Homo sapiens: one gene and its partner. The protein of the gene in region 1 interacts with the protein of each later gene in a biochemical or structural test. Each region holds a gene or a part of one and is shown in the gene's direction. Other genes may lie near its edges. The genes, in order: KIF15 and MKI67.

Region 1 (17,266 bases):
TCAGTAGCAAAAATGTTTTAATTCATACCAGAGGGGATAAGGGTACAAGAGACAACAGGGGTCAGAGGAAGAAGGGTGCAATATGGACTGCTTGTGGAACATGTGGAAAAGAAGTAGTTCTTGACTTGTGAAGGATTTCGGTAGGGAGAGAGAAACAGGAAATGCATGCCTGGCAGGGGGGCATCTCAAGGGTTATTGTGGATGCAGAATGAGTGTAGCATTTGGCATTTCAGCATGGCTCAATGGATGGGTTGGTTAGAGAGGCAAGCAGGCCCGGATTATCAAGGACCAGGAGTGCCAGGCCAAGTTTGTATCAACTCTGCGAATACTGGGAAACACTTAACATTTCTTAGCAACTAAGTGATTCATGAAGAAAGCCTGTTTTATAGAAACTTAGTCATCTGACCCACTGCTGTTAAGATTTTAGAAGGGAGAGCCCACAGAAAAAGATGACCACTTACGCTGTTTAATATTTCAGGTATGAAGGGTTAAGTATCTAGTCCTAGGCTAAGGTATCAACAGTGGGACCAGAGGTTCTATGTAATATGTATTGTCAATATGTGTTTATATATATATATATATAGTAATACGAATTGTCAATAAAATATTTGTAGAGTCTATAGTTTAGAATATACATGGGCAAGGGGAGAGGAATTGGAAAGGATGAGGGAAGAGATCTACTTTTTTCATTAAAAGTGAGGATTTGAGTCGCCTGACCTACATTTGAGGCAGTTTCAGGCAATCTGAAGCTCATATTTTTTTGTTTTGAGACAGTCTCACTCTGTCACCCAGCTGGAGTGCAGTGGCATGATCTCGGCTTACTGCAACCTCTGCCTCTCTGGTTCAAGCAGTTCTTCTGCCTCAGCCTCCCAAGTAGCTGAGATTACAGGCGCCCACCACCACACCCAGCTAATATTTTGTATTTTTAATAGAGATGGGGTTTCACCATTTTGGCCAGGCTGGTCTTGAACTCCTGACCTCAGGTGATCCACCCTCCTTGGCCTCCCAAAGTGTTGGGATTACAGGCGTTAGCCACCACGCCCAGCCTAAAGCTCATATTTCTATTGAGATATGAGGCTTAATAAATATAGCATATGGGTTGAGCATGGTGGCTTATGCCTGTAATCCTAGCACCTGGGAGGCTGAGGTGGGAGGATCCCTCGAACCCAGGAGGTCGAGATTGCAGTGAGCTGTGATTGTGCCACTGTGCTCCAACCTGGGTGACAGAGTGAGACTCTGTGTCAAAAAAAGCATATGCTTATAATAGGACATATACCAAGTCTGTTCTAAAATGCTTTACATATATTAATTCATTTAACCTTCCCAACAACTCTGGGAAGTAGGTGCTATTCTTTCTATTTTACAGTTAAAGAAACCGAAGTCACACAGCTAATAAAGGTAGAGCTGAGATTCAAACCGAGCTGCTACAGTACTCTCAACCATGCCACTAACCACCTTTCTGATTTACTGAATGATAACAGCAGTGACTCTGAATTCAGTACATCTTGCATTATAATTTTGACTTTTTCTCTTTTTTGTATACTCCTTCCACTGCAGACCCAGTTTTCAAAATATGCTACCTACAGTAAAAATCTAATGTAACGTATTTAGCTCATTTTTTCCCCCCACCAAGCTTCTGTTTTAAAGTAGTTTTTATTATCCTTTACAGAATTAAACTGAATATTCTCCTCAAATAAGTTCATCAGTGGCTTTGGGGGCTGTATGGGTGAGTTATTAGGCATTATACCCTTAAATATTTTAGCATAAAAGGATTGAAAAAAGTACCTATTAATGCACTACTCTAGCTTTTTTTTCCCTATTTTTTTCTGGTCTTTATAGCTCGGTTTCAAACTATTACAATCATGAAGTGACATTAATATTTTTTTTCTTTGCATGATTTTTGTGTTTGTCTTTTTTTGTTGTTGTTTTTGAGAGAGGGTCTCACTCTGTCACCCAGGTTGTAGTGCAATGGCACAATCTCAGCTCACTGCAACCTCCACCTCCCAAGCTCAAGTGATCCTCCCACCTCAGCCTCCCAAGTAGCTGGGACTACAGGCATGTGCCACCATGCCCAGCAGTTTTTTGTATTTCTTTGTAGAGATGGGGTTTTGCCATGTTGCCCAGGCTGGTATCCAACTCCTGAGCTCAAGCAACCTGCCCACCTCGGCCTCCCAAAGTGCTGGGATGACTAGCATGAGCCACAGTGCCAGCCTGTGTTTGTCTTCTAATACTAAAATTACAGTGTACATCAAATAGGAAAAGGTTAGGGATAGTTCAGCACTTCTTTTTTATTTGTTGAATAGTTGTTCTTTATTAACATTGTCCCTGACTTGCCTTTTCATCCAGAATTTTCCTCTGCTAGATATATTTTCATTCAAAATACCAAAGAGTAACCAACGTACCTAAATTTTTGTTCTTTTCCGTCAACACTTTAGGAAGCAGGTAACATAAATCGATCATTGAGCTGCCTGGGCCAAGTGATTACAGCACTTGTCGACGTGGGTAATGGAAAACAGAGACATGTTTGCTACAGAGACTCCAAACTTACCTTCTTACTACGGGTAAAGTAGATCCTTGGGTTCCTGGGCTCCTTTTGGTTATGCTAAAGTTGATAGTGGGACAGTCTCTCAGCCTTGGTGGCAAGAGTATACATTTTCTTTGCTTAAAAAGGTCTTGTGATTTCTCACCGAAAATATGTTCATTCCTATCATTAAACAGGATTCCCTTGGAGGTAATGCCAAAACAGCCATAATTGCAAATGTTCATCCTGGATCCAGGTGTTTTGGGGAAACCCTATCAACACTTAACTTTGCTCAAAGAGCCAAGCTGATTAAAAACAAGGTAAAATACTGGCGTATACTTCATTAAATAAATGAGAAAAATACTAAAGCTTACAGTATGCCATTTTTGTGATTGCCCTAATATTAACATTAACTTTTATTTATTTCTCATTGTATGCAAAATTTCTATTTTATCTTTCCTACCCTTCTATATCACACATGTAATTAGAGACCTAGGTTAGATCTTATGGTTGTTATTGCTTGACTAGTTTTTTCTTTTTTTTTGAGACACAGTCTTGCTGTGTCACCCAGGCTGGAGTGCAGTGGTGCAAACACAGCTCACTCTAGCCTCAACTTCCTGGGCTCAAGCGATCCTCCTGCCTCAGCCTCCTGTGTAGCTGGAACTACAGGCATGCAGCACCATGCCAGGCTAATTTTTTTATTTTTTTAATTTTTATTTTATTTATTTTTTATTTATTTATTTTTTTGAGACAGAGTCTTGCTCTGTCACCCAGGCTAGAGTGCAGTGGTGCGATCTCTGCTCAGCTGGGACTACAGGCGCCCACCACCACGCCCGGCTAATTTTTTGTATTTTTTAGTAGAGACGGGATTTCACCGTGTTAGCCAGGATGATCTCGATCTCCTGACCTCGTGATCCGTCTGCCTTGGCCTTAATTTTTTTATTTTTTGTACAGGTAGGATCTCACTTTGTTGCCCAGGCTCGTCTCAAACTCCTAGGTTCAAGCAGTCCTCCTGCCTCATCCTTTCAAAGTGCTGGGATTACAGGTGTGAACCACTGTACCCAGCTGACAAATTTTTTCTTAAGGGAAAGCAAATTAAGTATGTGAGTCTTTCTTCCTGCCAACAGCCAATCAATCAGTTCTGCAGCAGACATCAGCTGAGTGTCTTCTGATTCAGTTCCATCCTGACACTTTATGTCTGGAGATAGGGTGAGATCTCACAGGTTCAGGGCTCAGTCCTACAAGACTGCGCCCAACTTCTGATGCCAATTGCAAGCCCCAGCTTGTCCTATCTGTGCTTTCAGACCAACTGGCTGTAAATCAGGAGGTCCATGTTGCCCCTTTCCCTGGGTAAATCAGAAGACTATAGATCTAGTCATTTATTTTATTTCCTTGGACTATGGAGTACTAGTAAGATGAGGAGGAAAAATCATTAGAGCTTCCTGACCCTAAGTCTCTTAAGATTTACTAGAAGTCTTTGGAGATATAGAACTGCAGCAATAATTAGAATTATGAAGTCACTGATGGGACAGTGATGTCAGAAGTGCAGTAGTACCTTGTAATGAGGCTGGCCATAAGAATCAGAAGCAACTGGAAATGGCTGCTTAACACACAAAAGAACAAAACCAAGAGCCTTCTACTAGTCACTCTCAATGGTAAGCCCTTTGCAGCCTATCAGTGGAAAGTGCCAGAGTATCTGGGACTTGTTTAAGGATGTGCTATTTAAATTTTTCCGTGAGCAAATTGGGCTTACAGCGAGAATACAGAAGACCTTGGGGCTGTCACAGGGTGTTTTTTCCTTGCTGGAGTACTGAGTATTTCACAACTGAGTCCTCTGACCTGGTTGGTACTCAGCTGTTGGCACTCGTTATCACCCTTTAGGCTTTGTGGACCTTTTTAAAGCTTTATTTTTTTAATTAATCAACTTTTTTTTTTTTTTTGAGATAGAGTCTCGCTCTGTCAACAGGCTGGAGTGCAGTGGCGCACATGTGTGACCTGCCCCACTCTTGACATCCTGCCCCACAGTGGCACATTTTGTTTGTGAGTCCTTTAGCCTTTTAGAAGTTGTCCTAAATAAGACATTTCTTTAAGAAAATGAAGATAATCATTTAGTGTGGTAAAAAATTAAAAAAAAAAAAAAAAAGGAAGTGTCAAACCAACCCCTCCTTCCAAGAGGGCTGTTAAAAAATAAAGGTCGGATTCCTCTGGAGAAGGTTGCTTCTGCCAAGCTCAAGCCCACCCTGCAAGTCATCATGCACTTAGAGGCTAGGCTCCTTCCCCGTAGGGAGCTAGGAAAGAAGGGAAATGATACTCACTGAGGTATTGGCTCTTCTCCATTGGGAGGGTGGGGGAAGGCTGTCGTTCTCAGGGAAAGAAGTATTAGGTGAACACACCCGGATCCTAAGGGTGACCCAGCCTAAAAGCTCAGGGCTAGTCAGCTGGGGGGCAGAGAGCCTGGCTGGGGCTGTCTCTCTCTGGCTCCAGGTCTGAAGGCACAAGAAAAGGAAGCTTCCTCCCCACTTGAGCACACTGTGATTCCTGTGTCCTTTTGACTATGATGTGGTCTTGAAGTTTTGTTTGATGTTCATCACTACAAATCATACCAAACAAATGTAAACACAGGACTATACTACTCAAAAAGCATTATTTTAATGCTTTTTAAAAAATTCCTGAACAGGCAGTAGTAAATGAAGACACCCAAGGAAATGTGAGCCAGCTCCAAGCTGAAGTGAAGAGGCTCAAAGAACAACTGGCGGAGCTTGCTTCAGGACAGACACCACCAGAAAGCTTCCTGACCAGAGGTAGGATGAGCACACAGTCCTTTATCTTGGGGAAGACTGTACAAATAATAGTTTAAGAGCCCTTGGTGATAGACACAACACAATAAGGCAACCCAAATTTTTCTGCAGGTATCTCTTTCTGCTTATTTCTCCTATATAGGAACATAGTGGTTTGTTTATAATCAGATACAGATACCATAGGCAGTGAGAAGGGGGAATTAAAATAATTTTGAATAATGTATAAGTGCTAAAAAGAGATTAATTTCATTTAGATCTACTTCTACGTAGCATATGTAATCTATATATGTTTACTATAGGATAAGAGAGACTTATTTTTCTTCAAAGAATAGCTAGTAGAGAATTAATTAACTGGAAATCCATAAAGGCAAGAGGGTGAATTATTAACAGATCTTAAGAGGTGCACAGCACCCTGGGACTCCTCTAATTTTTTAAAAAATCTACTTCTACTTCTGTTACACCATGTGTAATCTATTGTGCATATTAACTAAATAAAGAGAAACTTATTCTTTGAAGAACGACTAATATGTGGAATGGTTAATTTGAAATCCGTGATCTAGTGATGACGGTCTCATTGTTTTTTTTTTTTTTGAGACGCAGTCTCTCTTTGTCACCCAGGCTGGAGTGAAGCAGTGTGATCTCAGCTCACTGCAACCTCTACCTCCTGGGTTCAAGCGATTCTCCTGCCTCAGCCTCCTGAGTAGCTGTGACTACAGACCCACGCCACCATGCCCAGCTAATTTTTTTGTATTTTTAGTAGAGATCGGGGGCGGCGGGAGGGGGGGGTCTCACCATGTTGGCCAGGCTGGTCTCGAACTGCTGACCTCAAGAAAGATATCCGTCTGCTTCAGCCTCCTAAAGTGCTGGGATTACAGGCATGAGCCACTGTGCCCGGCCACAGTCTCATTCTTTTAGATTAGTTGAGAGCAATCAATTAAAGGCTATCTGTTCTCTTGGTTTTGCAATGTGATAAATATTTTTTTTCATCTTCCCTTTCTTATTGGATCAATTACAGACAAAAAGAAGACTAACTATATGGAGTATTTCCAGGAAGCAATGTTATTCTTTAAGAAATCTGAACAGGAAAAGAAGGTAGGAAATGGAATTAGTAATAAAGGAGATTCAAGATAGTTAGTTTTTTGCTGTGTGGTTTTTATTGCCTTACTAAGTGAAATAAATAATACCAAGTCAATAAAGTAATGGAAGGCTATGAAAAATCAAATTTTGCCTTTAAGATTAAATATGAAATTAGTATTTGTTGCTGGACTTACGAAAATTTAGGGAAGTCAAATTATTTTTCATGTTTAACCAAATTATGAATTTCTTTAAGTCTCTGATAGAAAAAGTTACCCAATTAGAAGACCTCACCCTCAAAAAGGAAAAATTTATTCAATCTAATAAAATGATTGTGAAATTCCGAGAGGATCAAATAATACGCTTGGAAAAGCTCCACAAGGAATCCCGGGGAGGTTTTCTGCCTGAGGAGCAGGATCGTTTGCTCTCAGAATTAAGGAATGAGATTCAAACTCTGCGAGAACAAGTGAGTATACGGCATCTATAATATTTCTAAAAATAAAAGAAGTTCAAAGCAAATCTAAGTTTGTCAGCAAGTACTTGTTCTTTAATACAATGGAAATTGTTTTAAGTGAATTCTTCTGACAGTGTGATTGCATAATTCCTTTACCTGTCTTTTTAAAATAGTTAAAGGGAAGAGAAGGGGAGAAGGAAGAAGTTGTGGTGACATTGCTACATAGTATGCTACTCTAGCAGGCCACGCAGAATTTCACCCAGTGGGCAGTTGTGGTTATCTGAGTCAGTAGGCTCTTTAGGGTTGTGCCTTTTAACGTTTTTGTTGTTTTTCCTTTTCCTTAGGGAGAATGGATAGGTCATACAGGTACATTGTGGGAAAACCCAAAATCTCTTATCAGCTTCTTGTTTATCTCTCTGGAGTTTTTAATGAATATTCAAACTAATATGGGTGGATATTTGTACTTTTGTTTCTCCTGTACACTTTTTTGCACTTCGCCTTTTTCAGTTAATCTTGGTTGACAAGATTAATTTGGTCCTTGTTCTTTTCAGTGTGTTGATTTAACTAGTCTCCTTTGCATGAAAAGCCTGCCACAATGTACACCCTTGTGCTTACCTCCTTAGGTGGGTGAACATTTCAAGGGTCTAGACTCCAACTGAGAATAGGAGAGTTACAGGACATGCATATTTTCAAACTGATCACAAATGCCAAGTTGCTTTCCATGGTGGTTGCAGAAGGGTACCACCAGTAGTGCATGTGCATACCTAGTTTTCTAATGGCTTTTTAGAGGAACTAATTCACTAAGGAAATGTTTGTAAATATATAATGCGTGTAATTCTTCTATGTCACAGATAGAGCACCACCCCAGAGTTGCAAAGTATGCTATGGAAAATCATTCCCTCAGGGAGGAGAATAGAAGACTGAGATTATTAGAGCCTGTGAAAAGAGCTCAAGAAATGGATGCCCAGACCATTGCAAAACTAGAAAAAGCTTTCTCTGAAATAAGTGGCATGGAGAAAAGTGACAAAAGTAAGAAATGATTGTTGTATATACGTGCCATGTAGGAAGGGGCTGTTTTAAAGAGCATTTTTAGTGCCTTGTGACTAGGGTCTTCATTTTAGCCTCCAGGCCTGCTATGCTAATGTCTTATACACATATTCTTTTATATTATAGAAAGGTATTTACTAAACTTTTCTTTTTCTCAAAAATCACAGAGCATAAACTACGTAAGCTAATAGATATAACGAGAAAATACTCATTGTATTTGTTTTATTGATAAAAAGATTGATTCAGATACTATGTTAAATTTTTACTAAATTTTCCTGTTTAAAGTATTTGAAATGAAAAGTCTTTAACTAATCAAACGTGAATAAAAATAGAGTTGAAATGTTTATCAATCTAATTAGTCCTGTGCAGTATAAGAGATATAGAAAGGTCAGACTCATAGCACAGTGTTTGGGTCCTGATGTTGTGTTTGGGTCCTGGTATTGTGGTTACCAATGTATGCAGTCTCTAGTTACATACTACTTTCATAAGTTTGCATACTATGTGAAAAGTGGTTTAGTTAATACTAAATCTGCCTTACAGTCTTGACAGCTGTTGGTGTTCATACCCTGGGATTTGGTAACAAAGTCTGTGTTTGCCCCAGTCTTAGAGTTAATATTTTCACGGTCTTTTATCATAGACTTGGCCTTGGTTTCCTTTTAGGTTGAAATTGAAAAAGTTCTAATGTTTTTATTCTGCATTCATAAAGAAGACTGTCTCTTTGCTTTTTAAAATTTCATTTTTTAAGCCTTCTTCCATTCTGTTATGACTGAATAGAATAATAAGAGTCACAGTAACTGGGTTGGGGAGAGACTTAAGATATTAGATGCAAAATTACTATCAGGTTTTCTGTTGTTTTTTTTGAGATGGAGTCTCACTCTGTCACCCAGGCTGTAGTGCAGTGGTGCGATCTCGGCTCACTGCAACCTCCACCTCCTGGATTCAAGCAATTCTCCTGCCTCAGGCTCCCTCCTGGGATTACAGTCACACACCACCACACCGAGCCAATTTTTGTATTTTTGGTAGAGATGGGGTTTCACCATGTTGGCCAGGCTGGTCTTGAACTTCTGGCTTCAAATGATCCACCCACTTCGGCCTCCCAAAGTGCTGGGATTACAGATGTGAGCCCCAACGCCTGACTTAGGTTTTCTGTTTTATTTAAACTACTTTTCCCTACAGTGCCCTTTATTTTGTTGGCCATTTTGTTGTGGCCTCCATAATACCTTGACTTACTCCCTTCAGAAGATACTAATGTCTGGATCTCATCAGTTTCTAAACATTGATCATTCTCTAAACAACTTTTACATGATCTTTTCCCACACTGAAACTCAGTGGACTCTCTTCAACATATTCAGTGTTCTAGGCATTTCCTGAAAATTAATATTTTCTACCTGATAGATGATACCGGGTTCTTACAACCTGCTGCCCTTGCTATTTGTTTCCTTTTCTAAATAATTCCTTGGCTGTTAACATTAGCTGCTAGCACTAATTCCTACAAGATTCACTGGCTGCTGTTTCTCTGTCTAGCATTAGGCGTGCCACACTTTCGTCATTGTTTGTTCTTTCTCCTAATGGGAAAGGTGTTGCCTTAACTACACTTCTCCATCCTGTGGCATCTGCTTCTTAAACATGACTTCTAATCCCCTTTGGCACACTGTGTCACATCCTGTGCCTTCTGCTGAGTTATAAGCTTTTGTATTTTAGGGCTCGCTTTCCAACCCATTTCTCACTTTTCCTCCTTGTGGCCCAAAATTGATACCTGACAGAGAACTTAGAAAATGTGTCCTGTTATTTTTGCTTGTCAAACACTGAAGTTGTAAAGCTAGGCATGGTGGCATGCACCTGTAGTCCCAACTATTTGGGAGGCTAAAGCAGGGGGTTCACTTGAGACCAGAATTTGGGGCTTTAGTACACTATGATCATGCTTGTGAATAGCCACTGCACTCTAGCCTGGGCAACATAGTGAGGCCCTGTCTCAGAAAAAAAAAAAAAAAGACTGAGATTGTTTTCTTATTAACAGATCAGCAAGGATTTTCACCTAAAGCTCAGAAAGAGCCATGTTTGTTTGCAAACACTGAGAAGTTAAAAGCACAACTCCTGCAAATTCAGACAGAGCTGAATAATTCAAAGCAAGAATATGAAGAATTCAAAGAACTTACTAGGTAAAGTCTAAATACACATGCATGCACACTTATTTTCTTTCAGTGTTCATTTGCTGTAGTGTTAATATCGATAATTCAATTGGGCATTTTACTTTAAATATTAAACTCTCATAGCAGCAACTACTTTGACATGAAGAGAAAGAGCATGCTTCTAGCTCTTTACTAATATATTCAATGAACTAGGTAATACAGGTGTTTTAAGCAGTTTTTTCCTGTTGAGAGTCTATTGAACTTGCATAGTAAATTATTTAAATTTAAATTTGATAATCAGAGTTGTTAAGACTTTTAGGAAGTATAGGTTTGTTAATATTCCTACTTGATTCTCACTATGTAAAAACAAAGATAAATCACATTCATATTATAACTAAGATCAATCTTACCCTAAAATATAAACAAATGTTTGGTTCAAAAATGACATATCACATATGGTATAATCATGGACTATTTGTTTGGGCTTTTGAATTTGAGCCCTACCATTTACTAGTTGAATCCCTTAAACAGTCTCTGAGCTGTAGTTTACTGAACTGGAGAATGATGGGAATAATCTGAGAGAATAGAGAATATCTCTGATTTAGAGATAACTATAAAGTTATGTGAGAGCATAAACTGTAAAGTATTCTATAAATGTTTGACATTACTTATTACCTGAAATACTCCGTTTTACAATATCTATTAGGAAAAGGCAGCTAGAATTGGAATCAGAGCTTCAGTCTTTGCAAAAAGCGAACCTTAATCTTGAAAACCTTTTGGAAGCAACAAAAGCCTGCAAGCGGCAAGAAGTTTCTCAGCTGAATAAAATTCATGCTGAAACACTTAAGGTAGGTCATCTGAACAATACCTCCACCTTAAATCAGTGCAATGTCATTTTATTAATAATGGAGAGAGTCTGCATGGTCTATCTCCAGATGCAGATGACATCCCATGCAGGTAATTAACACCGGTGTCACACTGGTCTTTGGGTTACTGCTAGCAATCCCACTGATGTATCCCCCCAGTGGTAGGGTGGGGTAGGAAAGAATTCAGCATTTGCAATCAAATTCGAATGTGCCATTAACTTTAGTCAGGGTTTCCTAACTTCTGAGCCTTATCTTTCTTTTCTCTAAATTGGAAATGAAGGTAATTTACTTGCAGAGTTTTAGAGTACTAAATGAGATAGATAAGCTGCCTGGTACCTTGTAGATATCAGTAAAATGGCAGCTATTACTACAATATAACATGTCCTCAAAGTTTTCAGTAGAATAGAAACCCTAATGGGCAAAGACCGCTAAGGGATCACAGGTGCCACTGGAAATAACATGAGAGGGTTTTGTCCTAAATAACCACATCCCTCATAAAAGAAAAAAAAATGTGTGAACAACTGAGAATGAGGAGAGAGAAAGGAAGTACACAAGGAAAACAAAAGGTTGAGGAGGTGATACTGATTTCAGCTTTTGTATCCAATTTTTTGAAGGTTAAAAAATTTTTTCCTTAGCTGGGTGTGGTGGTGCAGGCCTGTAGTCCCGGCTGTTTGGGAGGTTGAGGCAAGAGGATTGCTTGAGCCCAGGAATTCAAGTCCAGCTTGAATTCAAGTTCTTTTCTTTTCTTTTCTTTTTTTTAAGACAGAGTCTTGCTCTGTCGGCCAGGCTGGAGTGCAGTGGTGCAATCTCAGCTCACTGCAACCTCCGCCTCCCAGGTTCAAGCGATTCTCCTGCCTCAGCCTCCCGAGTAGCTGGGATTACAGGCGCCTGCCACCATGCCCGGATAATTTTTGTATTTTCAGTAGAGATGGGGTTTCGCCATGTTGGCCAGGCTGGTCTCGAACTCATGACCTCGTGATCTGCCTGCCTCGGCCTCCCAAAGTGCTAGGATTACAGGCAAGAGCCACTGCGCTGGCCTCAAGTTCTTTTCAATAAAAGAAAGAAATAGAGAAGACCGAAAACCTTTCCTTATATGTCTTAGAATATAAATAGATGTTTATTTATAATGATTATTTTTAGTAGTGGTGCTTTTTGTGTCACTTAATGGAAGACTACTTGTATTCATTTGAATAGGTAATTTATGTGACTGAAATTTCCTTTCTTTTCTTTTTTTTTTGAGACGGAGTTTTGCTCTTGTTGCCCAGGTTGGAGTGCAGTGGCACGATCTTGGCTCACTGCAACCTCTGCTTCCTGGGTTCAAGCGATTCTCCTGCCTCTGCCTCCCGAGTAGTTGGGATTCCAGGCGCCTGCCCCAACACCCAGCTGATTTTTGTATTTTTAGTAGAGACGAGGTTTCACCATGTTGGCCAGGCTAGTCTCGAACTCCTGACCTCAGGTGATCCGCCCGTCTCGCCTCCCAAAGTGCTGGGATTATAGGTGTGAGCCACCGCGCCCAGCCTGTGACTGAAATTTTCAAAGGCATTTAGTAGCAAATCTCTTTCCTTCTGTTGTTCTTCCAGCCAACCAAGAACTGGAGGCAATCAGTGTCACCAAGTCAATCAATGTCACCAAGTATTTTCTCACTTTACACAAATGGTGGCATAACATACACATCATTCTACAGCTTGAGGGTGTGTGTGTGTGTGTGTGTGTTTTAAAGCAATATTTTAGAGTTTGTCCCATGTCTGCAGGGGAAAAAATGTTCTCCCCCTTTTTGTTTCTGTTTTGATTTTTTATTTGTTTTGGCAGCAGCTCAAGAATGTTATGTGGATATATAATGATTTATTCAACCTGGAAAATGCTGGGTTTTTTCCTATACAGGTAGAAATTTAAAAATTATTTTTAAATTTTGATTTATTTTATTTATTTATTTTTGGTTTTGTTTTTTAGAGACAGAGTCTTGCTCTGTCACTCAGGCTGGAGTGCAGTGGCATGATCATGGCTCACTGCAGCCTTGAACTCCTGGCTTCAAGTGATCCTCCTGGAGCCTCAGCCTCCCAGAGCACTAGGATTACAGGTGTGAGCCACCATGCCTGACCAGAATTTTTTTTTACTGTTGCTTTTTAAAAAAGGTGGTCTTTGAAGTTTTTGTAAGAAATTATTGAAAAATACTTGCAGAATACTGCCAAATGTTTTATAATTCTGTGTCTGTAGCCCCTTAGCACAATGGAATTATAGAGCTTGAAGCACCACGGCATTCTCGTCCTACTTCTTCCTTTTATGACTGAGCAAACAGGACTCAGAGGATTAGGTTTGCCAGGAGGGGCATAGCAATTCAGAGTCTTTGTTGTTGTTTTAGTTGGACAACTACTATATGAATACATTCTCTTTGTTTAAAAGAAAGACACATATTTCAAGTTAAAGTTAAAATTCCTTTTCAGCATCACTTCCAATCTGGATCTAATATAATCCTTTGTCCCCACAATCCCTGGAGGTAGTTTAATCCTTTTTCTTAGCATTTTTGTACTGTTAATATATACAGACTGAGAAAACACATAGAGTTGTTTCCTAGATTGTGTATTGTTTTGCTTTTTTTTTTTTTTTTAAAAAAAAACGGTCATTCTTCATGTGTTATTCCACAATATGCTTTTGTTAACTCAGGGATATGCCTTAGATCTTTCCACATTAACTGGTACCTAGAGCCTCATTTGGATGTGAGGCTCAAGGAATATGAGCCTCATACCAGTTAACGTGAGGCTCAAGGGTTATGAGCCTCATACCAGTTAATGTGGAAAGATCCAAGGCATCTCCTTTGAGGGACAGAAGAATTATAGAGCTTGAATTATAGAGCTTGAAGCACCATGAGGGATATCCCCTTGGGGGATATGCCTTGGATCTTTCCATATTAACTGGTACCTACCTCATTTTAACCCTAGGTTTCTATGGCTTAAGTAGATGGTTTCCAGTGCGTGCATTCTCTGGGGGTGGATTCCGTTAAAGGAGAAGTGGTCATTTTAGGATGTCTTAGCATTTGAGTGAGTCAAGCTGAAGCTCCCTCCTAGTGCCCTGTTCCCGCAGCATAGATGCATAGATGCACTCCTTTCCCAGCACTGTCCGCAGGAACTGGGATTGTCATGCTTGTTAATGTTTGACCATCTGATGGGTAAAAAATGAGATCTTGTTGTTAAGGTTTTAATTCTCATTTCTCTAATTTCAAATATCTTTTCATATGTTCATGTCCATTTGTATATCCTATTCCCTGAAAAGAAAAACTATTGTTTTTTTATATTTTTCTTCAGATTTTGTTTTTATGTAATAAGCATTTGTTTGTTAGGTGTACTGCCAATATATTCCTCCATCATGTTGCTTGTCTTTCATCTTTGCATGTGATGCTTTTGTTATATAGAAGTTTTATATTTTTGATGTAGCCAGGTTTATTGACCTTTTATCTTTATGACTTTTTTGCCTTTAATTTTGCTTTACATTGAGGTGTTTGTGTATCCACTGTTTTTCTTTTGAATGGTATGAGAAAGGGATTTAACTTAAAAAAAGTAATACAGCTAGGCATAGTGGCTCACACCTGTAATCTTAACACTTGGGGAGGCAGAAGCAGGAGGATTGCTTGAATCTAGGAGTTCAAGACCAGCTTGGGCAACATAGTAAGACCCTACCTCTGCAAAAAAAAAAAAAATTTAAATTAGCCAAGCATGGTGGTGTGCACCTTTGGTCTCAACTACTCCTGATACCTAAAATTTCCACAGAAAGATTATTCTATTTCTGGGCGGGGTGTGGTGTCTCACGCCTGTAATTCTAGCACTTTGGGAGGCCAAAGCGGGCAGATCACTTGAGGCCAGGAGTTGGAGACCAGCCTGGCCAACATGGTGAAACCCCATCTCTACTAAAACTACAAAAATTAACCAGGCATGGTGGTGTGTGCCTGTAGTCCCAGCTACTTGGGAGGCTGAGGCAGGAGAATTGCTTGAACCTGGGAGGCAGAGGTTGTGGTGAGCCAAGATTACACCACTGCACTCCAGCCTGGGCAACAGAACAAGACTGTGTCTCAAAAAATAATAATAATTCTATTTCTGGACTTTGTATTTCCTCCCAGTGTTCTATTTGAATGTACATAAGCTAATGTACTGTTTTAATATAATGTACTGTAATGTAATGTACTATTTTAATGACCATACTCCCATACCCCTATGTATTTTTATATCAGATGGGGAAGTCTTCCTAATTTGTTCTTTTTATTTTTATTTTTTTGAGAGACAGGGTCTCAGTCTGTCACTCAGGCTGGAGTGCAATGGTGTGATAATAGCTCACTGCAACCTAGAACACCTGGGCTCTGGGGATCCTCCTGCCTCAGCTTCCCAAGTAGCTGGGACTACAGGCCTGGGACACCATGCCCAGCTAATTAAAATGATTTTTTTTTTTGGTAGAGACAGGATCTCACTATGTTGCCCAGCCTGGTCTTGGACTCCTGGCCTCAAGTGATCCTCCCCTTCTCAGCCTCCCACGGTGTTGGGATTATAGCCATGAACCACCATGCCTGGCTTGTTCTTTTTAATTGTCTTGTCTCTTCTTGTACATTTATTCTTTGTATGAAAATAGATATCAGCTCATTAAGTTTATTTTTAAAAATTGTATTAGAATTTTGCTTGGGACTGCATTGAATTGATAAATTTATTTCCACTTGGGCATTTTTGTACTGTGTCTCAAGGGTACTTTTTCCTTTCTTTTCATGAATAGTATTTCAATTTTATCCTCTCTATTCACAAAATTATTAAATATGCCCTTTTTAAATATGTGCTAATGTTTTCCATAATCATTTTTTGCTGCAGATTATAACTACACCAACCAAGGCCTACCAACTTCATTCCCGACCAGTACCAAAATTAAGCCCTGAAATGGGAAGCTTTGGCTCTCTATACACTCAGAATTCTAGCATATTAGATAATGATATATTAAATGAGCCAGTTCCTCCTGAGATGAATGAACAAGCTTTTGAGGCCATTTCTGAAGAGCTTAGAACAGTGCAGGTAATGTTTTGTTCTAGAAAAAATAAATAACTGGACATCCATTTAAATACATTTGCTTTGTTATTTTAATTCCCTATAAGTTACAGTGTTCAAAAGTGCTTAGTATTAAAATCATATCTTTTTAAGTGTGGGTTTATAATCATTCCTAGATTGGAAATCAGCCCACTCTTGCTTTTTGTCTCTACTTTACAATCTTTAGCAAGTCATTCTCCATGGGTTTTTGTTCCTTAGTGTATAAAATGACCAGTTGGCCACTAGCTCCAAGTTCCAGAACTGGTTTATATAGCAAAGTGCTGTATCTGCTAAAAAAAGTTAAAAGAGGCCGGGTGCGGTGGCTCACGCCTGTAATCCCAGCACTTTGGGAGGCTGAGGCAGGCATATCACGTGAGATCAAGAGTTTGAGACTAGCCTGACCAACATGGTGAAACCCCGTCTCTACTAAATAGACAAAATTAGCCGGGTGTGGTGGTACATGCCTGTAATCCCAGCTACTCGGGAGGCTGAGGCAGGAGAATTGCTTGAACCCGGGAGGCGGAGGTTGCAGTGAGCCGAGATCGCGCCACTGCACTCTAGCCTGGGCAACAAGAGTGAAACTCTGTCTCAAAAAAAAAGAAAGTTAAAAGAATCTTATTATAGATCAAATTTTAGACAGTTTTTAATATATTTGAAATAATGTGAAATTTGATTATTCCAGAATTTTTATGGTTTGTTAATTTTTTAAAAAGGTTTTCTACTGTCCAGTAAAAGTTGGAGTGGGCCAGACCACCCCAAACCCCAGTATTTTGTCCTTTCCAGGCCATGGAGGTAACCGCTTGCAGCCCTGAGGAAGCTTCTTAGAAGTCTCAAGATGGCTCTGTCATGTAATCCAGGATTTTAATTTTAATCACTTCTTTCCTTTGTATTTCAAAGTGTCTACTTTAATGGACCACAAGTGTAAATCTGAAACATTAGCAATCATTTAGTATATAACCTTTTGATGATGTTTTCTGGCTCCAAACAGGCCTTTGATACCTTTGTTCATATGAGGTTTTGAATTTGTTTTGTTTTGTTTTGTTGTCTCTTTAATGCAGACGAAATGGTGGAATGTTTGAGAATTCCATTAAAATAAATTTTGATGACTGAAGTTTTTGTGTTGCAGGAACAAATGAGTGCTCTTCAAGCCAAACTGGATGAAGAAGAGCATAAAAACCTAAAGCTTCAGCAGCATGTTGACAAACTGGAACATCATTCTACCCAAATGCAGGAGGTGAGACCAAGAGCACAGCCTCAGAAAATGTATGAAGTACCCTCAAATGTTACCTTGAGGAAACATCCTCAAGGATCCTCAAACATCCTTGA
Region 2 (16,305 bases), on another chromosome or scaffold:
TGTAGACAACGTATTAGTTGGGTCATTTAAAAATCCATTCTGCTAAATGAATCTCTGTTATTGTCTTCATTTGTATTAGCTGTTTTTTAATGCACCACTTAAATTCCCTAGTCATTTCTTTTACTGTGCTTCTGGGAAGTTTGCCTTCATTTTTAAAGAGTATTTTTATTGAATACAGACTTCTATGTAGGAAGTTTTTCTTTTTTTCTTTTTCTTTTTGTTTGTTTGTTTGTTTGTTTTTGAGACAGAGTCTTGCTCTGTCACCCAGGCTGGAGTGCAGTGGTGTGATCTTGGCTCACTGCAACCTCCGCCTCCCGGGTTCAAGTGATTCTCATGCCTCAGCCTACCAAGTAGCTGGGATTACAGGCACGCGCCACAACACCCGGCTAATTTTTGCAATTTTTAGTAGAGACGGCGTTTCACCATGATGGCCAGGCTGGTCTTGAACTCTTGGTCTCAAGTGATCCACCTGCTTCAGCCTCCCAAAATGCTGAGATTACAGGCATGAGCCACTGCGCCCGGCCTATAGGTAGGAAGCTTTTGATGTTTATTGGAGGGCTGAACTATTTTTCAAAACAAGATATTATCCAAATTGAGATAAATTCAGATGATTAAAGACATCCAACAAAGATTTGAAAGTGAATCTTAGAAAGAGAGACTTGATTCCAAACTCTCTACCATGAGAAATAATATCAGATGTGTGACTGCTTCAGATCTTACTTAGGTTGCCTATAAATTCAAATCAGGTCATTTCACTGAGGCCAAAAGTTTTCATTATGCAAAATAAAGGATTGCTTCTATGACTTGATCACTGAGGTTTGCCAGGACAATTATGTATCTTGCTAAAGGTGATCTTCTTAAGATGTACCTGTCTTGTTCAGATACAGACTGAATGTGTGGGAAACTGAAGTGATCATAGTGTTCTAAAATATAGGTTTGTAGTTACCCTGTAGTGTAAGTGTAGCTTTTTATTTACCCTGAAGTATGTAACTTCACAACGTGAGAAAGATTCAGTTACCTACAGGCTTCCTGGCTGGCCTTCCAAGCCATCCGATGATTTCCATGGACTTAAACTAGAAGAAACTTGACTTTGCTCTCATGTGCATTAGCTTATGTCATAGAAGGTGCTTGGTAATATTGTCAAATCATACCTGGGCTGTTCGTCAGTGATCAGAAGTTAATCTGGGTCCCCAGCCTCTGACAGTGGTATTTCAAAACAAACTCGATGCAACTAATCCTAGTTTTTAGTGTAAAAGCACTTTTCTAACTCTAAATTTATTTCTTTGTATAAGGTGATGTCTTGAACTAAACCCAAAGTTTGTTCGTTGATCCTTGGACATTAAGTGGATATGGAGACTTCCGCCCCAGGGTATAAATTTTTAATCAGGATCTTTGTCGTTCTATAAACTGCAGGTATGAAAATGAAAGTCTTCAGAATGGAAGGAAGTCAACTGAATTTCCAAGAAAAATACGTGAACAGGTGATAGAAAATATCCAAGTTTGGGCTGATTCGTTTCGATGATATGAAATCATTTATGTATGCTTTAATGATTTCTTACTTGAAATCAGTTACAAAGAGGGTGGTTACTGTTATAGTAGGAAAATGTAACTAAAGTATAAAAACGAGTTGAACTTAGACGTATTAAAATAATCTAAAATGATATTTCCTCTTTATTGTTCAAAATCAGAGCACTAAGTTGGTCTTACACTTTTAGCCAAAAAGTCTATTAGAGCATGTTGCGAGCTTTTTGCAAACCCATGATTAGGATAACCCCAACACGTAGAGCTAACATTTGGGAATTGCATTATCTGGTGGCTCATTTTGTCGCCCAGTCATTGTACTCATCCGTCTTTATGTGTCTGAAATAATCACATTATGAAAATCATGAGTGCCAAAGATGCTTCTCTATTTTGATAGATAGACGACCCATGAAACAGGAAAAGGGATCCTGTGCTTTGTCTTGTGAGAGAATCCTATAGTTTGAGTGTATCAGTGTGGAACAGGTATTCCAATTGTACAGCTTATGAAAACATAATTGTCGACACGTGCTTCGCAATTTAGATAGTTTGAGTATATCAGTGTGGAAGAGGTATTTTAGTTGTACAGCTTATTAAAACACAGTTGTCGGCATGTGCTTGGAAATTTAGTGGGATTTAGGCTTAGGATGAGCCCTGAGAATTCATATTTTTCCTACATTTTAGAGTGCTCCTAAAGCTAGTTTCAGATGAGCTCCTTGGAATATCTTGGCTTAGGAGAGTTATCTTAGGTGCACCTGAAATTAGCAGTAGGTACTCTTGAATTTCAACATTTCTGCCTTTTTTTTTTTTTTTTTTTCTGAGACGGAGTCTCACTCCGTCACCCAGGCTGGAGTGCAGTGGTGCGATCTTGGCTCACTGCAACCTCCGCCTCCTGGGTTCAAGCAATTCTCCTGCCTCAGCCTCCCGAGTAGCTGGGACTACAGGTGCACACCACCATGCCTGGCTAATTTTTGTATTTTTAGTAGAGACAGGGTTTCACCATATTGACCAGGCTGGTCTTGAACTCCTAACCTCGTGATCCACCCACCTGGGCCTCCCAAAGTGCTGGGATTACAGGCTTGAGCCACCATGCCCAGTCCATTTCTGCCATTTAAGTACTGCCTTCTTCCCTAGAGGAGCAGCCTTAATGTTGAATCTGATGGTCATCAGTTCCCGTGCTGGAAGCCAGTTTCTGAGGCATCCCACACTGTAGCCACCAGGCAACTTGCTAGTCTATGGGAGTAAATAAACCAAAAAGCCAGTTGAACTGTGGGTTAGATATGTGCCACTCAGCAGTCTAGGAACTGTTTGTTCTGTTACTGGTCTGTGATATAGTGAGTACTGAAATGGAGTATGTAGTAAATATGACAGCAATTCGACAGCAATTTTGTGGCTATTGAATGTAATCGTACAACAAAAGTGAGATTATATACTTTACATATTCATAATTTTATTAGTGGTTCATTTATATTGTTTAGTCATAAGATTCTTGTTCCACTTCAGATTGGAAATAAAAAACCATCCCTCACATAGATAGTTTTAGAAGCAAGGTGTTACGTATCAAGAAACCTAAAATTGATTAAGGAAGTTAGATTCTTTGCCTTTGTTAATATTTTTTAGATATTTTCTTAATAATCCAGATGATAAGCTTTTCTTCCTTTGGGGCATCAGACTTTTATAAAAGTTATATATATATGTTATTCTTTAGTTCTTCCACCCTTCCGGAAATAATTCCATATGAAGGAAAGTTAGGGCGCTGTCTCTGGGGAGCCAGGTGGGGGCGCTGCGCCTGCTCCCAGGCTGTGAGGTTGCAGAATCTGTGAATATACCATGTGTGCCTGTACCATGAATTTACCTAGGGTGAATCTAGGCTCTCAGATCCACCCTAAGTATCCACCAGCCAAGAGGGCGCACATGCCAAGTGGAGCCTCAGTTCATCGACAGGTCCTATGGCCCATTTATGAGAAAACTGATGACGCAGTCAGTAGTTCTGAGCTCGTGGGGGGTTACAGATCTTCAGTATAGGTGATGTTTAATATTGACTTTGGTTCTTCCGCAATAGGATGTTGGGAAATATCTTTAAAGGAAGTTATAAAAACACACCGAGGTTTGATTTTAGTAATTTTAAGCCTCGAATTTGTTTCCTATTAATCACTCACTATTTTTTAATGAGTCAGCTAATAAGTACTTTTATCCTGACCACTAGCTCCCAACTGACTTGAGCTCATTTCTCAAACAGTCTTTAAAAGTCATATACGAGTGGTTTGGTAAAGAAAACAATTTTTTATTGTTTTTATTTTTATTTTTTGAGACAGAGTCTCGCTTTATTGCCCAGGCTAGAGTGCAGTGGTGCAATCTCTGCTCACTGCAACCTCTGCCTCCCGGGTTCCAGCAATTCTCCTGCCTCGGCCACCTGAGTAGCTGGGACTACAGGCACCTGCCACCACATCCAGCTAATGTTTGTATTTGCAGTAGAGATGAGGTTACATCATGTTGGCCAGGCTGTTCTCAAACTCCTGACCTCAAGTGATCCGCCCACCTTGGCCTCCCAAAGTGCTGGGATTACAGGCATGAGCCATCATGCCCAGCCAGAAAACAATAAATAATATTTTCACTGTTGTGACTGTCATCATTTAGAAAGACCTGCAAATAACTGTTCTTATTTTCCCAACTTACAGGAGCCAGCACGTCGTGTCTCAAGATCTAGCTTCTCTTCTGACCCTGGTGAGTAGTGGTTGGGTTTTGTTCCAGAATCCTGAAAGATCAGGTCTTTGCGAAGCATATTGGCAAAGAAGGGGCAACAAGAATGCAAGTGCTAAATGTCTAGCCTGTCAGAAATGGAGGAGGTGTCATTTAACATGTCAACGACAGACAGATGCCTAACTTTCCCTTGGTGACTGATGGTATGCTATGCTTAGGAGAGACTCTAGATATGAGAAAATTGCCTGTTCAGCTGTCAACTCAGTTCTCAGTAGTTAGATAGCATGTGCTATTTCATACTGGTTATTGGAGCTGATATGATTTATATATTTGTATCATAATACTAGTATCATAAGACTTGCAAGTTTTAGGCATTAAATAATTTGTAGGCCAAGTAAAAGCTAGCTTATAAGACAACCTGAAACAATTAAAATATTGAATTCCACAAATGTTAATCATTGAGAAAATGCTGAACTTCTGTTTCTTATTTCATAATTCATTGCCAAGATGAGAAAGCTCAAGATTCCAAGGCCTATTCAAAAATCACTGAAGGAAAAGTTTCAGGAAATCCTCAGGTACATATCAAGAATGTCAAAGAAGACAGTACCGCAGATGACTCAAAAGACAGTGTTGCTCAGGGAACAACTAATGTTCATTCCTCAGAACATGCTGGACGTAATGGCAGAAATGCAGCTGATCCCATTTCTGGGGATTTTAAAGAAATTTCCAGCGTTAAATTAGTGAGCCGTTATGGAGAATTGAAGTCTGTTCCCACTACACAATGTCTTGACAATAGCAAAAAAAATGAATCTCCCTTTTGGAAGCTTTATGAGTCAGTGAAGAAAGAGTTGGATGTAAAATCACAAAAAGAAAATGTCCTACAGTATTGTAGAAAATCTGGATTACAAACTGATTACGCAACAGAGAAAGAAAGTGCTGATGGTTTACAGGGGGAGACCCAACTGTTGGTCTCGCGTAAGTCAAGACCAAAATCTGGTGGGAGCGGCCACGCTGTGGCAGAGCCTGCTTCACCTGAACAAGAGCTTGACCAGAACAAGGGGAAGGGAAGAGACGTGGAGTCTGTTCAGACTCCCAGCAAGGCTGTGGGCGCCAGCTTTCCTCTCTATGAGCCGGCTAAAATGAAGACCCCTGTACAATATTCACAGCAACAAAATTCTCCACAAAAACATAAGAACAAAGACCTGTATACTACTGGTAGAAGAGAATCTGTGAATCTGGGTAAAAGTGAAGGCTTCAAGGCTGGTGATAAAACTCTTACTCCCAGGAAGCTTTCAACTAGAAATCGAACACCAGCTAAAGTTGAAGATGCAGCTGACTCTGCCACTAAGCCAGAAAATCTCTCTTCCAAAACCAGAGGAAGTATTCCTACAGATGTGGAAGTTCTGCCTACGGAAACTGAAATTCACAATGAGCCATTTTTAACTCTGTGGCTCACTCAAGTTGAGAGGAAGATCCAAAAGGATTCCCTCAGCAAGCCTGAGAAATTGGGCACTACAGCTGGACAGATGTGCTCTGGGTTACCTGGTCTTAGTTCAGTTGATATCAACAACTTTGGTGATTCCATTAGTAAGTTTATTTAATTGTAAATTTATTTTTCTAAAAGATGAACACCTTCTATGTAGCTGTGAGACCTTCATTCTTTCAGTAGTGATTAGCTTTGTGGAAGAGAATGTAAGCACATAAGGCACAGGGATAAGACAGACACGCACGCTGTTTTCGCTAATAGATGAATACTGAAGGCCTAGGTAATTGTAACAAGGAATGACAGAAGAGATGGAAGTTGTCAGGCAATCATGAAGCAGGGGTTATTGAAGGAGATAGGGTGGCCCCAAAAATATTTGATTCTCCTCCATCTATCACAAAATAGAAAAGAGAATAATCATAATTGCTTTTCACATGGAGTTTAATTCTGAACTACAATCAACTGTATCATATGAGTTTGGTCATGTGGAATAAATCACTGGTAATCATTAAACATAGCGGTAGTTCTCAGGTGTTGATACTCTGTTTTCAGAGTGTCCTACAAACAATTTGCTGTAAACACTGGACTGTACCCATGAGTCCATATGCCACATGAACACTTGATCCTTGGTGCAATAGCAGTGCCCGTGGCTAGGTTGTCTTTTTAGAGCTATGTCACACATGAGGAAACGCACAACCCAAGGCCAGTCAGGAAGTGGCAGAGGTAGGACCTTTATAGCAGGTGTGGTAGCTCCTCGGGAGCTTCCTACACTCCTAGGGACTGGCTATTAGAAGAAAAGTTGTCTGGGCCACAGACGCAGTATTCGTACTCCAGGCTGTGTTTCTGCAGGTGGCCTATAGCGGTGGGGCATGAGGCTGTCGATAAAATAAGGTTTGTAACATCAGTCTCAGTATTCCACCAAGCTTCCTAGTGGGGAAGCATCACTTAGGCAAGGGATTTACATTAACTGGTGGCTCAGGAAAATGTGTGGCCGGGACTGGGCTCCTGTGAATTGACTCAGAACCACCTGGAGGAGTTTTTACAGCTCATGCATTCTGGTCACTGGGTGGCTCAGGCTGAGACCCAAGTGCATGTCTTTAGAGAGTTCTCTGGCTGTCGTCCCCCTACTCTAAGGTGAAATCTGCTGCTGCAGACTCCTCCTTTCTATGTCCACACATAATGTTTCAATGTTTTAAAGAAAGCCTCTGTACTGTCCAGTGGCAACTTGACGTCTTAGTGGCCACTCCCGCAATCCTTTAGGAACTCTTAGTAGCTTAGCTTCACCAGGATTGCAAGAATAGAGGCGTGCTGTAGGTACTGTGTTTCGATGACTTTTCACTTGGTTTGTCTTTAATGCTAACGTGAAATAAATCACTAGTCTTGGTATGTTTTTTCATTGCTCTTTCCACATTTGTATCCGTTACTTTAGATGAGAGTGAGGGAATACCTTTGAAAAGAAGGCGTGTGTCCTTTGGTGGGCACCTAAGACCTGAACTATTTGATGAAAACTTGCCTCCTAATACGCCTCTCAAAAGGGGAGAAGCCCCAACCAAAAGAAAGTCTCTGGTAATGCACACTCCACCTGTCCTGAAGAAAATCATCAAGGTGAGTTGAACAAGCAGCATCCCATTCACGCCCAGTGGCTCACACACCGGGTACCTATTCCTTTCCAAATACTGACACAAGTAGAATTATGATGAAGACCTTTATTTATTTATTAAAGAAACAAGTTTTTAAAAAGACGAATGAAAGCTCATTGATGTGGGCACCAGCAAAGGAGCCCCTGGGTCCCTGACCGTGGTGCTGATGCGACCGAGTCGGGGGAGTCCTTGATGTTGTCCTTTTCGTGCAGAAGTTCCCAGACACCCACGCTTACAGCACTGCGTAATCACCTGCAGGCACCGTCAGAATAGCCAATTACAAAGATTCTGGATACATTACCACGTCGACCCATAAGGATTGTTTTATTTTCTTTTAGAGTTACAAGGCTATAGTTAAGGCATTTACCTGGTGTGAAGGAAAATCAATGGCACATCTTCCTTTTACACCTTCAGCTCTTTAGAATATTTGCTTGCCTGTTCCTTTGCTGTGTTGTCCTTCCTGGGTTTCACACCTCTGGGAAGTCATGGCCCTATAGCTCATAACCTTTGTAATAGGGCCTGGGCGGTCTTTCTTTCCTTCTCTTCCCAGCAGGAGTGGAAAGTGATGTCTGGCTCCCTTTCCATTTTACACTGGCTCCCAGGGGCAAGCAGTCCTCCCTCCATGTGGACTGCCGGGGGCTGGGTGCTCACAGCTGGTATTTACTGGGACTGAGATCAGACCCTGCTTGTCTTTCACTGATCAGGATGTTCCTTCCACCTTTTTACCTGAAATGACCTCACTTCAGACTTGGCTTGCTTCTCTTTCCTTTTCCTTAAATGACTGAGACAGTCTCACCTCTACCATAGTCTTCAAAGACAGTGGCTTAAGCATTTGATGCTTCAAGATTTAAACAGCTGAAATTCTTAACTGAATAGGTTTTTATCAGTCATTCCAGAGATGTTAGATCCTTGTTAAGGCTTCTTGTAAACAATTTTGTCTTGTCAGGAACAGCCTCAACCATCAGGAAAACAAGAGTCAGGTTCAGAAATCCATGTGGAAGTGAAGGCACAAAGCTTGGTTATAAGCCCTCCAGCTCCTAGTCCTAGGAAAACTCCAGTTGCCAGTGATCAACGCCGTAGGTCCTGCAAAACAGCCCCTGCTTCCAGCAGCAAATCTCAGACAGAGGTTCCTAAGAGAGGAGGGAGAAAGAGTGGCAACCTGCCTTCAAAGAGAGTGTCTATCAGCCGAAGTCAACATGATATTTTACAGATGATATGTTCCAAAAGAAGAAGTGGTGCTTCGGAAGCAAATCTGATTGGTTAGTCTGACATTAGAATACATATATTAAGGTGAATTTTTTCATGAATGCTAATTTTTGAAAAGTTTCGTCTTTTCCCTTTGACAGTTGCAAAATCATGGGCAGATGTAGTAAAACTTGGTGCAAAACAAACACAAACTAAAGTCATAAAACATGGTCCTCAAAGGTCAATGAACAAAAGGCAAAGAAGACCTGCTACTCCAAAGGTAGGGGCCTCACTGAATGGCTGCTTTACACATACCGGTGTCATCGAAGCTTGCATTCAGTGTGGATTTATGCTTTAATGTCCTGTTTACCTCCTTCCTGTTTTCTACAGAAGCCTGTGGGCGAAGTTCACAGTCAATTTAGTACAGGCCACGCAAACTCTCCTTGTACCATAATAATAGGGAAAGCTCATACTGAAAAAGTACATGTGCCTGCTCGACCCTACAGAGTGCTCAACAACTTCATTTCCAACCAAAAAATGGACTTTAAGGAAGATCTTTCAGGTAAAAACGTAGTCTTAGATCTTATAAATCTTTTGACTCTACTGTTTTTTACTGTGTTAATGTTTGTTTTGCTAACTTTGTTTATCTGCTGTGAAAGAGATTATAAAATAAACGACTCAATCACCCTTCTGGGGTCTTAGTGTTCAGGGAAGATAAAGCTGTTTTGGCTTGCAAAGACAAGTCTCTGCTAATTTTTGGGATCACATGTCCTGCATGAAATAGGTGTGGAAATGTCAAATGCATGTCTTTACCCTGGAGAGCAGCGTATACATAGAAAGCTGGAAGGTGCTTTACAGTGAAGAGAGTTAACTTGTTAATCTGCAGGTACAATAATAGTTTATCCCAGGTGTGGGCCAGTTGTTGTTGAGCAACATTTTGCTTCTTCAGGATTGACTTTCTAGGTAGCTTAACTTTCTTGAAAGAAAGCCCTATGAGAAGATTCCCATAAACGATTGTTGAAGAAATATTTCCATTCAATTCCCACTCTCAGTAAATTGTGGCCTGACTTGTGTAATTTAAAGTGGGGATGGCCGGCGCAGTGGCTCACGCCTGTAATCCCAACACTTTGGGAGGCTGAGGCCTCCTATCATTCCAAACAGAATGATAATGATATTAGATTTTCAAAAATATATATTATTACTTGACAGTACTAAAAATGGGCAGCTCTTTGTCATTTTCTAAAATGTGGGTACGTGTTATTTGTACTTAAAATCTAGAACTGAGCACCCAAGACTTTGAGAAGCATGAAGGCATTTGGCCTCTAGATCCTAGCAGGGAGGCCTATGGGTCTCAGGAGCCCGTCACCAGCCTCCGTGCTCCAGAGCTCACGTGTGGGGTCTTGTTAGGAGGACCCAGAGGTCAGCTAACTTCATTTGTTTCCTTTCCAAGAAAAGCAAAGCGAAGAGCATAACATATCTTCTCTGTGCTCTCTTTTTTACAAAATGAGTACATTATTAATGGAATCACTCTTTTTATGAGGCCTATGTACCAGGATTTCAAGGGAGGAATCTACTGTTATTTCCCACCATTTGCACGTTACATGTGAGGGCTGGGATGGTTGTCTGCATGTTAGCAATATGTCAATCACTTTTCAAATATTTTCATTTAACAGGAATAGCTGAAATGTTCAAGACCCCAGTGAAGGAGCAACCGCAGTTGACAAGCACATGTCACATCGCTATTTCAAATTCAGAGAATTTGCTTGGAAAACAGTTTCAAGGAACTGATTCAGGAGAAGAACCTCTGCTCCCCACCTCAGAGAGTTTTGGTTGGTTTCCTTGTTTCCTAACACTGTGATGTTTTGGGATAGGAACATACAGTATTATTTTTTTACAAGCAGTATGATATTACTTCTCTAAAACAAATGTTCCTGGCACAAAATACCATTTCCGTCTTCTCTGTTCTAATTGAAAGGGAGATTTCAATCAGCAGTTGAACTAACATTGGCATTCATTGACTTATATAGAAAGAAAGACTCCGTTAATGTGTGTAAATGACCTGTGTACACTTTTGGCTTCTTTATTGTAAGTAACCAGGGTGACATAGCAAAAAAATACAATGGTGTCTCACCATATTTACATATAAATTACTCATATTCAAAATTACTGCCAATTACAAAACAGAAAGATAACAGTTTGTATACTGTGCAATTATTCCTGCTAACCTTTTAGGTGGGAGCAGGCCCGGGGTAAGTGTGAGATGGGAGATGAGAATCTGTCTAATCTCTCATTTGGCACTGGTCACTGTATTCCTGTCACAGAGGGAACAGCTTGCTACCCTGAAGATGTTTGCGGTAGGTAAATATTTCCTGTGTAATATGGACCCTAACCACATAAGGATAATCCATGTTATTTTATTGGCGATTTAAGGCAAGAAACAGCTGTTTGTTTCTAATGTTTGAAGGAAAAAATGCCTATATTTACGTCAATGACACAGGGCATGGCAACCTTTGGAGGAACCTTCTGAAGCAGTATTTTTACCTTCTATGATCATTTCAGCATCTAACTTTGCTTAATGATGACCCCACTATAGCACCAAATAACATTATTCTTAATTGTGCATGGCTCTTATAAGACAGATTTATAGACACATAAGTAGCCTCATGTCGTTCAGTGAATACGAAGCTAAATATTTAGTTTTTTACCATATTTTATGAGGCTGTAATACTCGATTGACATGAGACACTAATAGAATGTTTTTATTGTGTATGTTTTTATTTCAGGAGGAAATGTGTTCTTCAGTGCACAGAATGCAGCAAAACAGCCATCTGATAAATGCTCTGCAAGCCCTCCCTTAAGACGGCAGTGTATTAGAGAAAATGGAAACGTAGCAAAAACGCCCAGGAACACCTACAAAATGACTTCTCTGGAGACAAAAACTTCAGATACTGAGACAGAGCCTTCAAAAACAGTATCCACTGCAAACAGGTCAGGAAGGTCTACAGAGTTCAGGAATATACAGAAGCTACCTGTGGAAAGTAAGAGTGAAGAAACAAATACAGAAATTGTTGAGTGCATCCTAAAAAGAGGTCAGAAGGCAACACTACTACAACAAAGGAGAGAAGGAGAGATGAAGGAAATAGAAAGACCTTTTGAGACATATAAGGAAAATATTGAATTAAAAGAAAACGATGAAAAGATGAAAGCAATGAAGAGATCAAGAACTTGGGGGCAGAAATGTGCACCAATGTCTGACCTGACAGACCTCAAGAGCTTGCCTGATACAGAACTCATGAAAGACACGGCACGTGGCCAGAATCTCCTCCAAACCCAAGATCATGCCAAGGCACCAAAGAGTGAGAAAGGCAAAATCACTAAAATGCCCTGCCAGTCATTACAACCAGAACCAATAAACACCCCAACACACACAAAACAACAGTTGAAGGCATCCCTGGGGAAAGTAGGTGTGAAAGAAGAGCTCCTAGCAGTCGGCAAGTTCACACGGACGTCAGGGGAGACCACGCACACGCACAGAGAGCCAGCAGGAGATGGCAAGAGCATCAGAACGTTTAAGGAGTCTCCAAAGCAGATCCTGGACCCAGCAGCCCGTGTAACTGGAATGAAGAAGTGGCCAAGAACGCCTAAGGAAGAGGCCCAGTCACTAGAAGACCTGGCTGGCTTCAAAGAGCTCTTCCAGACACCAGGTCCCTCTGAGGAATCAATGACTGATGAGAAAACTACCAAAATAGCCTGCAAATCTCCACCACCAGAATCAGTGGACACTCCAACAAGCACAAAGCAATGGCCTAAGAGAAGTCTCAGGAAAGCAGATGTAGAGGAAGAATTCTTAGCACTCAGGAAACTAACACCATCAGCAGGGAAAGCCATGCTTACGCCCAAACCAGCAGGAGGTGATGAGAAAGACATTAAAGCATTTATGGGAACTCCAGTGCAGAAACTGGACCTGGCAGGAACTTTACCTGGCAGCAAAAGACAGCTACAGACTCCTAAGGAAAAGGCCCAGGCTCTAGAAGACCTGGCTGGCTTTAAAGAGCTCTTCCAGACTCCTGGTCACACCGAGGAATTAGTGGCTGCTGGTAAAACCACTAAAATACCCTGCGACTCTCCACAGTCAGACCCAGTGGACACCCCAACAAGCACAAAGCAACGACCCAAGAGAAGTATCAGGAAAGCAGATGTAGAGGGAGAACTCTTAGCGTGCAGGAATCTAATGCCATCAGCAGGCAAAGCCATGCACACGCCTAAACCATCAGTAGGTGAAGAGAAAGACATCATCATATTTGTGGGAACTCCAGTGCAGAAACTGGACCTGACAGAGAACTTAACCGGCAGCAAGAGACGGCCACAAACTCCTAAGGAAGAGGCCCAGGCTCTGGAAGACCTGACTGGCTTTAAAGAGCTCTTCCAGACCCCTGGTCATACTGAAGAAGCAGTGGCTGCTGGCAAAACTACTAAAATGCCCTGCGAATCTTCTCCACCAGAATCAGCAGACACCCCAACAAGCACAAGAAGGCAGCCCAAGACACCTTTGGAGAAAAGGGACGTACAGAAGGAGCTCTCAGCCCTGAAGAAGCTCACACAGACATCAGGGGAAACCACACACACAGATAAAGTACCAGGAGGTGAGGATAAAAGCATCAACGCGTTTAGGGAAACTGCAAAACAGAAACTGGACCCAGCAGCAAGTGTAACTGGTAGCAAGAGGCACCCAAAAACTAAGGAAAAGGCCCAACCCCTAGAAGACCTGGCTGGCTTGAAAGAGCTCTTCCAGACACCAGTATGCACTGACAAGCCCACGACTCACGAGAAAACTACCAAAATAGCCTGCAGATCACAACCAGACCCAGTGGACACACCAACAAGCTCCAAGCCACAGTCCAAGAGAAGTCTCAGGAAAGTGGACGTAGAAGAAGAATTCTTCGCACTCAGGAAACGAACACCATCAGCAGGCAAAGCCATGCACACACCCAAACCAGCAGTAAGTGGTGAGAAAAACATCTACGCATTTATGGGAACTCCAGTGCAGAAACTGGACCTGACAGAGAACTTAACTGGCAGCAAGAGACGGCTACAAACTCCTAAGGAAAAGGCCCAGGCTCTAGAAGACCTGGCTGGCTTTAAAGAGCTCTTCCAGACACGAGGTCACACTGAGGAATCAATGACTAACGATAAAACTGCCAAAGTAGCCTGCAAATCTTCACAACCAGACCCAGACAAAAACCCAGCAAGCTCCAAGCGACGGCTCAAGACATCCCTGGGGAAAGTGGGCGTGAAAGAAGAGCTCCTAGCAGTTGGCAAGCTCACACAGACATCAGGAGAGACTACACACACACACACAGAGCCAACAGGAGATGGTAAGAGCATGAAAGCATTTATGGAGTCTCCAAAGCAGATCTTAGACTCAGCAGCAAGTCTAACTGGCAGCAAGAGGCAGCTGAGAACTCCTAAGGGAAAGTCTGAAGTCCCTGAAGACCTGGCCGGCTTCATCGAGCTCTTCCAGACACCAAGTCACACTAAGGAATCAATGACTAACGAAAAAACTACCAAAGTATCCTACAGAGCTTCACAGCCAGACCTAGTGGACACCCCAACAAGCTCCAAGCCACAGCCCAAGAGAAGTCTCAGGAAAGCAGACACTGAAGAAGAATTTTTAGCATTTAGGAAACAAACGCCATCAGCAGGCAAAGCCATGCACACACCCAAACCAGCAGTAGGTGAAGAGAAAGACATCAACACGTTTTTGGGAACTCCAGTGCAGAAACTGGACCAGCCAGGAAATTTACCTGGCAGCAATAGACGGCTACAAACTCGTAAGGAAAAGGCCCAGGCTCTAGAAGAACTGACTGGCTTCAGAGAGCTTTTCCAGACACCATGCACTGATAACCCCACGACTGATGAGAAAACTACCAAAAAAATACTCTGCAAATCTCCGCAATCAGACCCAGCGGACACCCCAACAAACACAAAGCAACGGCCCAAGAGAAGCCTCAAGAAAGCAGACGTAGAGGAAGAATTTTTAGCATTCAGGAAACTAACACCATCAGCAGGCAAAGCCATGCACACGCCTAAAGCAGCAGTAGGTGAAGAGAAAGACATCAACACATTTGTGGGGACTCCAGTGGAGAAACTGGACCTGCTAGGAAATTTACCTGGCAGCAAGAGACGGCCACAAACTCCTAAAGAAAAGGCCAAGGCTCTAGAAGATCTGGCTGGCTTCAAAGAGCTCTTCCAGACACCAGGTCACACTGAGGAATCAATGACCGATGACAAAATCACAGAAGTATCCTGCAAATCTCCACAACCAGACCCAGTCAAAACCCCAACAAGCTCCAAGCAACGACTCAAGATATCCTTGGGGAAAGTAGGTGTGAAAGAAGAGGTCCTACCAGTCGGCAAGCTCACACAGACGTCAGGGAAGACCACACAGACACACAGAGAGACAGCAGGAGATGGAAAGAGCATCAAAGCGTTTAAGGAATCTGCAAAGCAGATGCTGGACCCAGCAAACTATGGAACTGGGATGGAGAGGTGGCCAAGAACACCTAAGGAAGAGGCCCAATCACTAGAAGACCTGGCCGGCTTCAAAGAGCTCTTCCAGACACCAGACCACACTGAGGAATCAACAACTGATGACAAAACTACCAAAATAGCCTGCAAATCTCCACCACCAGAATCAATGGACACTCCAACAAGCACAAGGAGGCGGCCCAAAACACCTTTGGGGAAAAGGGATATAGTGGAAGAGCTCTCAGCCCTGAAGCAGCTCACACAGACCACACACACAGACAAAGTACCAGGAGATGAGGATAAAGGCATCAACGTGTTCAGGGAAACTGCAAAACAGAAACTGGACCCAGCAGCAAGTGTAACTGGTAGCAAGAGGCAGCCAAGAACTCCTAAGGGAAAAGCCCAACCCCTAGAAGACTTGGCTGGCTTGAAAGAGCTCTTCCAGACACCAATATGCACTGACAAGCCCACGACTCATGAGAAAACTACCAAAATAGCCTGCAGATCTCCACAACCAGACCCAGTGGGTACCCCAACAATCTTCAAGCCACAGTCCAAGAGAAGTCTCAGGAAAGCAGACGTAGAGGAAGAATCCTTAGCACTCAGGAAACGAACACCATCAGTAGGGAAAGCTATGGACACACCCAAACCAGCAGGAGGTGATGAGAAAGACATGAAAGCATTTATGGGAACTCCAGTGCAGAAATTGGACCTGCCAGGAAATTTACCTGGCAGCAAAAGATGGCCACAAACTCCTAAGGAAAAGGCCCAGGCTCTAGAAGACCTGGCTGGCTTCAAAGAGCTCTTCCAGACACCAGGCACTGACAAGCCCACGACTGATGAGAAAACTACCAAAATAGCCTGCAAATCTCCACAACCAGACCCAGTGGACACCCCAGCAAGCACAAAGCAACGGCCCAAGAGAAACCTCAGGAAAGCAGACGTAGAGGAAGAATTTTTAGCACTCAGGAAACGAACACCATCAGCAGGCAAAGCCATGGACACACCAAAACCAGCAGTAAGTGATGAGAAAAATATCAACACATTTGTGGAAACTCCAGTGCAGAAACTGGACCTGCTAGGAAATTTACCTGGCAGCAAGAGACAGCCACAGACTCCTAAGGAAAAGGCTGAGGCTCTAGAGGACCTGGTTGGCTTCAAAGAACTCTTCCAGACACCAGGTCACACTGAGGAATCAATGACTGATGACAAAATCACAGAAGTATCCTGTAAATCTCCACAGCCAGAGTC

Evidence for each region.
Region 2: the proteins of KIF15 (region 1) and MKI67 form a complex in vitro, tested with the Homo sapiens proteins (one study listed by IntAct).

Annotation. Positions count from the first base shown.
Region 1 is NC_000003.12:44,795,116-44,812,381, forward strand, and holds part of KIF15 (kinesin-like protein KIF15), read left to right. Parts: intron 1-2,435; coding exon 2,436-2,561; intron 2,562-2,718; coding exon 2,719-2,841; intron 2,842-4,079; exon of another isoform or gene 4,080-4,173; coding exon of another isoform or gene 4,174-4,176; intron 4,177-5,198; coding exon 5,199-5,322; intron 5,323-6,334; coding exon 6,335-6,411; intron 6,412-6,649; coding exon 6,650-6,859; intron 6,860-7,698; coding exon 7,699-7,876; intron 7,877-9,911; coding exon 9,912-10,053; intron 10,054-10,729; coding exon 10,730-10,871; intron 10,872-12,701; coding exon of another isoform or gene 12,702-12,770; intron 12,771-15,730; coding exon 15,731-15,928; intron 15,929-17,066; coding exon 17,067-17,174; intron 17,175-17,266. UniProt on the Homo sapiens protein: Plus-end directed kinesin-like motor enzyme involved in mitotic spindle assembly.
Region 2 is NC_000010.11:128,104,428-128,120,732, reverse strand, and holds part of MKI67 (proliferation marker protein Ki-67), read left to right. Parts: intron 1-1,413; coding exon 1,414-1,480; intron 1,481-4,196; coding exon 4,197-4,242; intron 4,243-4,725; coding exon 4,726-5,805; intron 5,806-7,130; coding exon 7,131-7,306; intron 7,307-8,287; coding exon 8,288-8,600; intron 8,601-8,687; coding exon 8,688-8,806; intron 8,807-8,916; coding exon 8,917-9,088; intron 9,089-10,199; coding exon 10,200-10,355; exon of another isoform or gene 10,356-10,786; coding exon of another isoform or gene 10,787-10,880; intron 10,881-11,309; coding exon 11,310-16,305. UniProt on the Homo sapiens protein: Protein that associates with the surface of mitotic chromosomes and acts both as a chromosome repellent during early mitosis and chromosome attractant during late mitosis.